Homo sapiens: one gene and its partner. The protein of the gene in region 2 interacts with the protein of the main gene of each other region in a pairwise test. Each region holds a gene or a part of one and is shown on either strand. Other genes may lie near its edges. The genes, in order: BBS12 and MKKS.

The links.
Region 1: the proteins of MKKS (region 2) and BBS12 interact in binary tests that used the Homo sapiens proteins (3 or more experiments, as listed by UniProt).

The regions. Positions count from the first base shown.
Region 1 is NC_000004.12:122,735,519-122,739,439, forward strand, and holds part of BBS12 (chaperonin-containing T-complex member BBS12), read left to right. Parts: intron 1-3,854; exon of another isoform or gene 3,855-3,921. UniProt on the Homo sapiens protein: Component of the chaperonin-containing T-complex (TRiC), a molecular chaperone complex that assists the folding of proteins upon ATP hydrolysis.
Region 2 is NC_000020.11:10,432,539-10,436,459, forward strand, and holds the start of MKKS (molecular chaperone MKKS), read right to left. Parts: upstream 1,685-3,921; 5' UTR 1,570-1,684; intron 1-1,569. UniProt on the Homo sapiens protein: Probable molecular chaperone that assists the folding of proteins upon ATP hydrolysis. Plays a role in the assembly of BBSome, a complex involved in ciliogenesis regulating transports vesicles to the cilia.

The DNA of each region.
Region 1 (3,921 bases), on a different chromosome or scaffold from region 2:
TAAAGGGCCTCAACTAAGGCGGTGCCAAATAGGAATCAAGTCAACTCCAAGGATGGTTAAAACTTATATTCATGTTGGAGAAATACTAAAAGTACCGTCTGTTTTCTCTTGCTTCAGTTTTGTACTTAAATTTGGGGGAACAAATATGGTGAAAAAAATTCATTCACTTACCAAATATTTATAGAGTACTTGCTGTGTGTCAGGCAATATTGTAGGTACTCGGGATATACATCATTGACTAAAATTGCCTTCCTGGAAATTACATTCTAAGAGAGAGATGTAGTCTATAAAAAATAAATAAGTAAACTATATCCTATTTTATAAGGGAATAAGTGTTATGGGAAAAAGAAAGTATAACAGATGGAACAAATCCAGAGTACAGAGGGAAAAGAGGATTTGTGGTATTCTATAGAGTGCTCAGGGTAGGCCTCATTGAAAAGCAGAAAATTTGAGAAAATATTTGAAGGTGATGCAGCAATAGATTTCTTAGGGAAGAGCATTCCAGAAAGAGGGAACAACTAGAACAGAAACATTAAGATAGGGAACATGCAAAGCATTACAAAAAGAGGCCAGAACAAAGTGGCCAAGGGATAAAATAGTAAGTGATAAAGTCAGAAGGGTAAAGAAAGGACTGCAAATAGTTAGGGCATTGTAAGGACTTTGACTTCGACTCCAAGTGAAATGGGTAGGCCTTGCAAGATTTTGAGCCTAGGAGTGAAAGGATATGAGTTCATTTTTAAAAGGGACTCCTGTGTCAAAGGCATAAAGCTTTATTTTCTGAGTTAGAGGTTTTTAAACAGTAGAGTGACATGATTAGACTTCTGTATTGGGAATAGACTGGAGATGAGCAAACAGTTGATTTAGATAATAAAAGGCTAATCATGCCCATCAAGAAAATATTATAATTTTTCAAAATGCAGCTCCTGAAAGCATTGCATGTCTTATTACTCTAAACTGAGTACCTTAGACAAAACTGGACATAATCTTTTGAAAAAAAAAACTTATTCTGATGTCAAAATTCCAGTTAAGTTGTCTGACTCTGCTCTTCCATTACACACTTAGAAACTCAAAGAAACATTAAGCTGGCAAGTACTGAAAACAGAGAACTGTTTGTGGAAAACATTGGTGCATAACAGGACATGCATAGCAGGACAAGAATCAGATTGTGTCTGTGTAATGCCAAGAAGAGTTGCCAGAAGTACTTATCATCTTTGAAATTATCCACTTTGTTATCCCCTTTGCTGTTTTTGCCTTTTTATACCCCATCTCTTAGAGGATGGGGCATTTTTGTTTTGAGTTTTTATATTATGTTAATTATAGCCGACTGTAACCTGTTCAAAATAATAATTTAGGAGCTCTTCTAGAGTTGGGAATGCTGAGAATTTTTAAAAATTACTAAAACTTGGAATAGCTTTTTCAAATGCCAAAGCAGATTTGTCTTGAATATTGATTTTGATATCAGTTTTATGTGACTTTTTGCTTATACATTAGTTTTCTTTAAATAATTTCATGCCTTTTGTATCTAGGAAACTTTTTCACATAAATTAAATACAGATTAAATTTGAAATAGCCCATGACTGTTTCCATTCGCTCTAAGTTCTCTCTGACTTTTCTACTCGTAGTAATATCTTGTGATTTAAGCATAGTATAGAAAGGAGATCATAAGCAGAGACCCTGATACATGTACAAGTTAAGAGTATGAATAAGGTTTGGAAGAAGGCAGAAAGGTTTGGAAAAGGGAAACACAGTAAAAGATTCTAAAGAAGAGAGGGTGAATTACTATCATACTGGGCAAGGGGCACCTAAAAGGCAGAATTATATAGTAGTTAATAGCATAGGCTTTAACATTAGACAAACCTGGGTTTTAGTCCATAGCCTTTTACAAATTAGCTGTGAAATTTTGTATATGTTATGTAACTATTCTGCTTCATTTTCCACATCACTAAAATAGATTATAGTACCTCCCTCATGTTGTTGTGAATGAATACTACATTACATAATACTTGTAAAATGCCTCATACTTAGTAAGCTTTCATAACATGTTCGAAATGAAAAACAAAACCCAAAAGTCAATCTTTTCAAGCTTGTCCTTTCAACAAATTATTCTGGAGCAACTGGATATCCATGAGGAAAGAGGAACCCCTACCTCACACCATTTACAAAAGTTAATTTAAGATGACTTATGGACATAAATATAAAAGCTAAAACAAACGGAAGAACAAATTTGGCATCTCATACTTCCTGATTTCCAAACTTACTACAAAGCTATAGTACTTAAAACCTGTGGTACTGGCATAAGGATGAATGTATAGATCAGTGGAATTGAATTGAGAGTCCAGAAATCCATAGACATCTATGGCTAATTGATTTTTGACAAAGATGCTAAGGCCACTCCATGGGGAAAAGAATTGTCTCTTCAGCAAATGGTACTGGGACAATTGGATATCCACATGCAAAAGAATAAAGTTGGACTCCTACCTTACACTTTATATGTAAATTAACTCAAAATGGGTCAACAAACTAAATATAAGAGATGAAACTATAAAACTCTTTGAATAAAACATTGGGCTAAATCTTCATACCTTGGATTTGGCAATGGATTTTTAGATATGGCACAAATAATATGAGCAAACAAAAAAATAGGTAAATTAGATTTCATCAAACAACAACAAAAAAATAGGTAAATTAGATTTCTAATTTCTTTTTCTTTTTTTTTGAGACAGAGTCTCGCTCTGTTGCCCAGGTTGGAGTGTGCAATCTCGGCTCACTGCAGGCTCCACCTCCCGGGTTCACGCTGTTCTCCTGCCTCAGCCTCCTGAGTGGCTGGGACTACAGGTGCCTGTCACCATGCCCGGCTAATTTTTTTGTATTTTAACAGAGACGGGTTTCACTGTGTTAGCCAGGAATGGTCTCGATCTCCTGACCTCATGATCTGCCCACCTTGGCCTCCCAAAGTGCTGGGATTACAGGCGTGAGCCACTGTGCCTGGCCTAGATTTCTAATTTCTAACTAAAAACATTTGGTCATCAAAATGCATAATCCAAAAAGTGGAAACTGACTTACAGAATGAGAGAAAATGTTTGCAAATCATAGTTTGATAAGGATCTAGTGTCCAGAATGTATAAGGAACTCTTACAACTTACCAAAAAAAGACTAACTGCTCTATTTTTAAATGGTCAAAAGACTTGAATAGACATTTCTCCAAAAAAGATACACAAATGGCCAATGCACATGAAAAGATGCTCAATATGAGGAAAATGCAAGTCAAAAACACAATGAAATACCACTTCACATTCACTAGGATATCTATAATATTACAAAATATTACAAAAGCAAAAATGGAAAGTGTTCAGTATACTGGACTGAATATTTCCCCCCAGTTCATGTCCTTCTAGCATCTCAAAATGTGATCTTATTTGAAAATAGTTTCTTTGTAGATGTAATTAGCTAAAGTGAGGTCATACTGGATTAAGGTGGGCCCTAAATCCAATGACTGGTATCACTGGATTATAAGAAGGCTGTTTGAAACAGAGGCAGAGGTTAGAGTTATGCAGTCAGAAGCCAAGGACCACTAGGAGCAACTAGAAGCTGGAGGAAGCAAGGAAGGATTCTTCCCTTGATCCTTCAGAAGGAGCATGGACCTGCCAGCATTTTGATTTTGGGCTTCTAGACTCCAGAACTGTGAAAGAATAAATAAGTATTGTTTTAAGCTACCCAGTTGTTTGTGGTAATTTGGTATGGCAGCCCTAGGAAGCTGATGCAGTGAGGATGTGGAGAAATCAAAACCCTCATACATTGTTGGTGGGAATGTTCAGCTGTTATGGAAAACAGACAGTTCATTCAAAAGTTAAAGATATTTGCTCCTCCTTTTCATGCCTGTGGCTGGATGTCCCACAGCACTATAGGAAATGTGAGTCAGGC
Region 2 (3,921 bases):
TCCCAGCACTTTGGGATGCCGAGGCGGGTGGATCACCTGAGGTCAGGAGTTCAAGACCAGCCTGGCCAACATGGCGAAACACCATCTCTACTAAAAAATACAAAAATTAGCCAGGTGCAGTGGCGGGTGCCTGTAATCCCAAACTTCTCCGGAGGCTAAGGCAGGGAGAATTGCTTGAACCCGGGAGGCGGAGGTTGCACAGTGAGCAGAGATCCAGCTTCAGCCTGCGCGACAGAGCGAGACTCTTTGTCAAAAAAAAAAAAAAAAAAAAAAAAAATCGTGTAGTTTTGTACACAACTTGCCACCTCCTTCCATGTACCTTAAATAATCTCTAGGCTACTTATAATACCTAATACAACGTTAAATGCTATGTAAGTAGTTGTTACACTGCAGTGTTTAGGGAATGACAAGAAAAAAGGTCTGCACGTGTTCAGTACAGATGTAACCATCTTTTTTCCCCCAGAATGTTTTTATTTATTTATTTTCTTAAATAGAGTCTCTGTCGCCCAACCTGGAGTGCAGTGGCGTGATCTCCGCTCACCGCAACCTCCGCCTCCAGGGCTCAAGCGATTCTCCTGCCTCAACCTCCCAAGTAGCTGGGATTACAGGCGTGCGCCACTGCGCCCGGCTCATTTTTTTGTACTTTTAGCAGAGACCGGGTTTCGCCACGTTGGCCTGGCTGGCCCCAAACTCCTGACTCAAGTGATCCGCCCGCCTCGGGCTCCTAAAGTGCGGGGTTACAGGGGTGAGCCACCAAACCCCGCCGCCCCAAAATATTTTCTATCCGCAGTTGGTTGAATTCACACATGCGGAACTCATGGATAGGGAGCGTATTGTTTCTCCCCCATCACTAGAACATGGAGTCAGGACCGTGCAAGTCCCTCTTGGTCACTGCCGTATCTACTAACTCGGCAGTGCTGTAGACACGTGTATATCTGTTTATGGATAAACTGAAGATGTTAATGAATGAATGAAACCGTCATATTGAGTCTCTGAAACGGCAACAGGATTTGGGTATGGTCTTATCGGGGAGGAAGACGAGCATGACCTTAGAGGGTCATCCCTACAAGGTCCACAGCCCTGCAAGCCCCGCGGCTGCTTTCACGTAGCTGGCAGGGCCACGCTGCACAACGTCTCTAACGCCGTCGGAGGGCGGCCCCCACCTCCCGACAGCCTGGGGTACACCGTGCACCCTCCAGACAGTCAGGGGCACACGGGGCCCCTCCCAGCGAGGGAGGGGACGGGGAGTCACAGGTTCGGCGTAGAAGGCGGCAGCGCAGGTGGGAGCGTGGTGAGGCGCCACTCCTCCAGCTCTCCCCACCGGCGGGAAGACCTCCTCGCCGCCCGCATCCGTGCCGACCGCAACATTTACCATCGGCAGCTATTTCAGAGGTCGGTCTTTCGCCTCCTACAGAGAGCCAGCCTCCTCCTTGTCCCCGCCCTCAAATATCCTTCAGTGAGGACACCGGTGACCTTTGGGGGTGGAGAGGGAGGCGCCTACAAGCCCCTTCCCCTCTCTTCGGCCGGACACAAAGCGGGCTTTTCCACCTAGAGTCCCAGCGCTCTCACCTGCGCACCAGCCGTCGCGCCGCCCCAGGCCGCCACCGCCAGAGGCCCCAGAAACAGATCTCAAGCAGCCGCTGCTGCCGCGGATCCCGACAACCTTCGCGTCGCGCGAGGGCACGGAGCACGCGCAGCTCTGCGGTCGACGCCGGGCCGCCCCCACTCCGCTTCTCCGGGTTTTCCGTGAAGCTCCAGCCAACAGCGGCCGTCACCGGAAAAAACGGGGAGCGAAGTTTATTCAGCGTATATTCCAGCAAATTGTTGAAACTGAAATTTTAAAAGAACGCATAAAATTTAAATAACATATCAAAATGGCACAGCTTCTGCCTTTTGGTGAGCGCTTGACAATGATTTATTGAATGAAAGAAAGAAATAGTCCACTGCGCTCTGCTCTCTGTCCTGACATGACCAATTACAAAGCGCTTGGATTTGTCGCTCAGCGCCAGTATCCCGCCTCTCTGTGCGGTTGTCTGGAAAATCAGGATTTTTACTCTCCCGTAACTCCCGGGATCGGGTTTGGAAAACGGACATGCGCCGTGAGAGCTAGTTGCCTTCTACTAAAGCATCCGCCCTCAGTCCTTCCTGAGGGCTTACAGGGAAGTGCGGAGTTTCGCAGCTCGTACTCTTCACAGATTAGATAATTCACCCGGCATTTCCCCATCCTGCTTCTGGGTTCCAGGACAAAACTTTTATTCTCTTTTAACATTAAAAAACATATAGGAAGTTATGTTCAAACATGGCTATTTTTATTAAAATTTATCCGGCACTGTGAAAGCTACCTTTCCTTTCTCACAATCTTTCGCACCGAATATATGTTCCATTCTTGAGCTAGTCATTTTCCAATGTTAAGAAAACACACCACAGAAAAGCGTTTTTTTTTCTCTCGGTCAGTTCAACTGCCTAGCACCGTGAGTTACCATGATACGTTATTTGCTAATGAGAGTCATTGGGGTCCCAGCCTTTAAAAATAGCCTGCGTCCGGCGCCATTTTTGTTTTGGGCCCACTTTGAAAGCCGCGATATTCTGAACAGAGGCCATTTTTCTTTTGGGCAGATTCCACGGGCCATCGAAGTGTTTCGCTGCCATCTTAAATCCTGGCTGTGGCCTCAATCCTGCAGCGAAGCTGCCCAGATCATTTTGTGTTTGGGCGGCGGCTGAGTTCCCAAACGCGCGCGGAGACCCTGGGAAGGAGGAAGTAAGCGCGAAAGTGCTTCCCTTAAGCTTCTGAAGGTTGGCTGCAGTTCCGGCTACCTGTGTAGTCCGAGTTTCCACAGCCAGGTACTACTCCGCCAGTGACCCTGGACAGTAACAAAACATATAAAGCCCGAGCCCAAACCCCGCCACCATCATAGGTAAGCACATGGACCTCTGACAACCTCAGATGTTCCTTCAAGTGAACTGAACTGTTTGCCCATCTCCTCCCTCCTGGTTTTTGGCTTTGATTTTTTGAGACTTTTCCGAATCCTTCTCCCTGTACTTCCACCTTTCTTCATTGTTTTCAAAAAGCCAAAAAGTTGCTAAACATCAGGATGCCATGAGCATGGGCATTACGGTGGAGATATTATTCAGGAAAGTTAACTGTCTTTGCACAAAGGGAATGCAGTAGATGGGCCAGGTATTTGTATCAAATCATGGCTACCTGCATCCAGCAGTACAAATACCTCCCCCTTCCCAGACATTTTTGGAGATGTGAGGTAAATACAGATTGCGTTTGTATATACTTCCCATTCATTCATTTATTCATTGCATTTCTTGAGTACCTAATTTGTGCTAGGCCATAAGGATTCAGGAGTTAGCTAAAAAAAATCCATTAACTCATGGAGCCTACATTTTATCACCTTGACATCTACTAGGTTGAGACAAATAACAGTATTTTATGGTTCTTAGCACTGCTAGACTGTATAAACAAGTATTTGCTTTCTCCTTCCCCTGAACTATTTTTTTTTATTTTTAGTTTTTAATTTTTTTGGCCGGGTGTAGGAATTAATGGTATTGACACTTACTTCTTGGATCCTAGACATAACGATATTTGTAAGCCAGTTGGCTAGCGTTAAAACTAATATTCCAGTTACTTAGGGCCTTGTTGCTCCAAGTTCATTTCACCTACCACCAGCATCAGCATCCCTGGGAGCTTGTTAGAATTACACTTCATGACTCTCACCCCAGAGCTGCTGAATCAGAATCTTCCTCAAGAAGTGTACCTTAAAGTTCAAGGAACATTGATTCAGGGCATGGGCTAAAGATACAGCCCTTTCTTTCTTTCTTTTTTTTTTTAGATGGAGTCTCGCTCTGTTGCCCAGGTTGGAGTGCAGTGGCGCGATCTTGGCTCACTGCCATCTCCGCCCCCCGGGTTCAAGC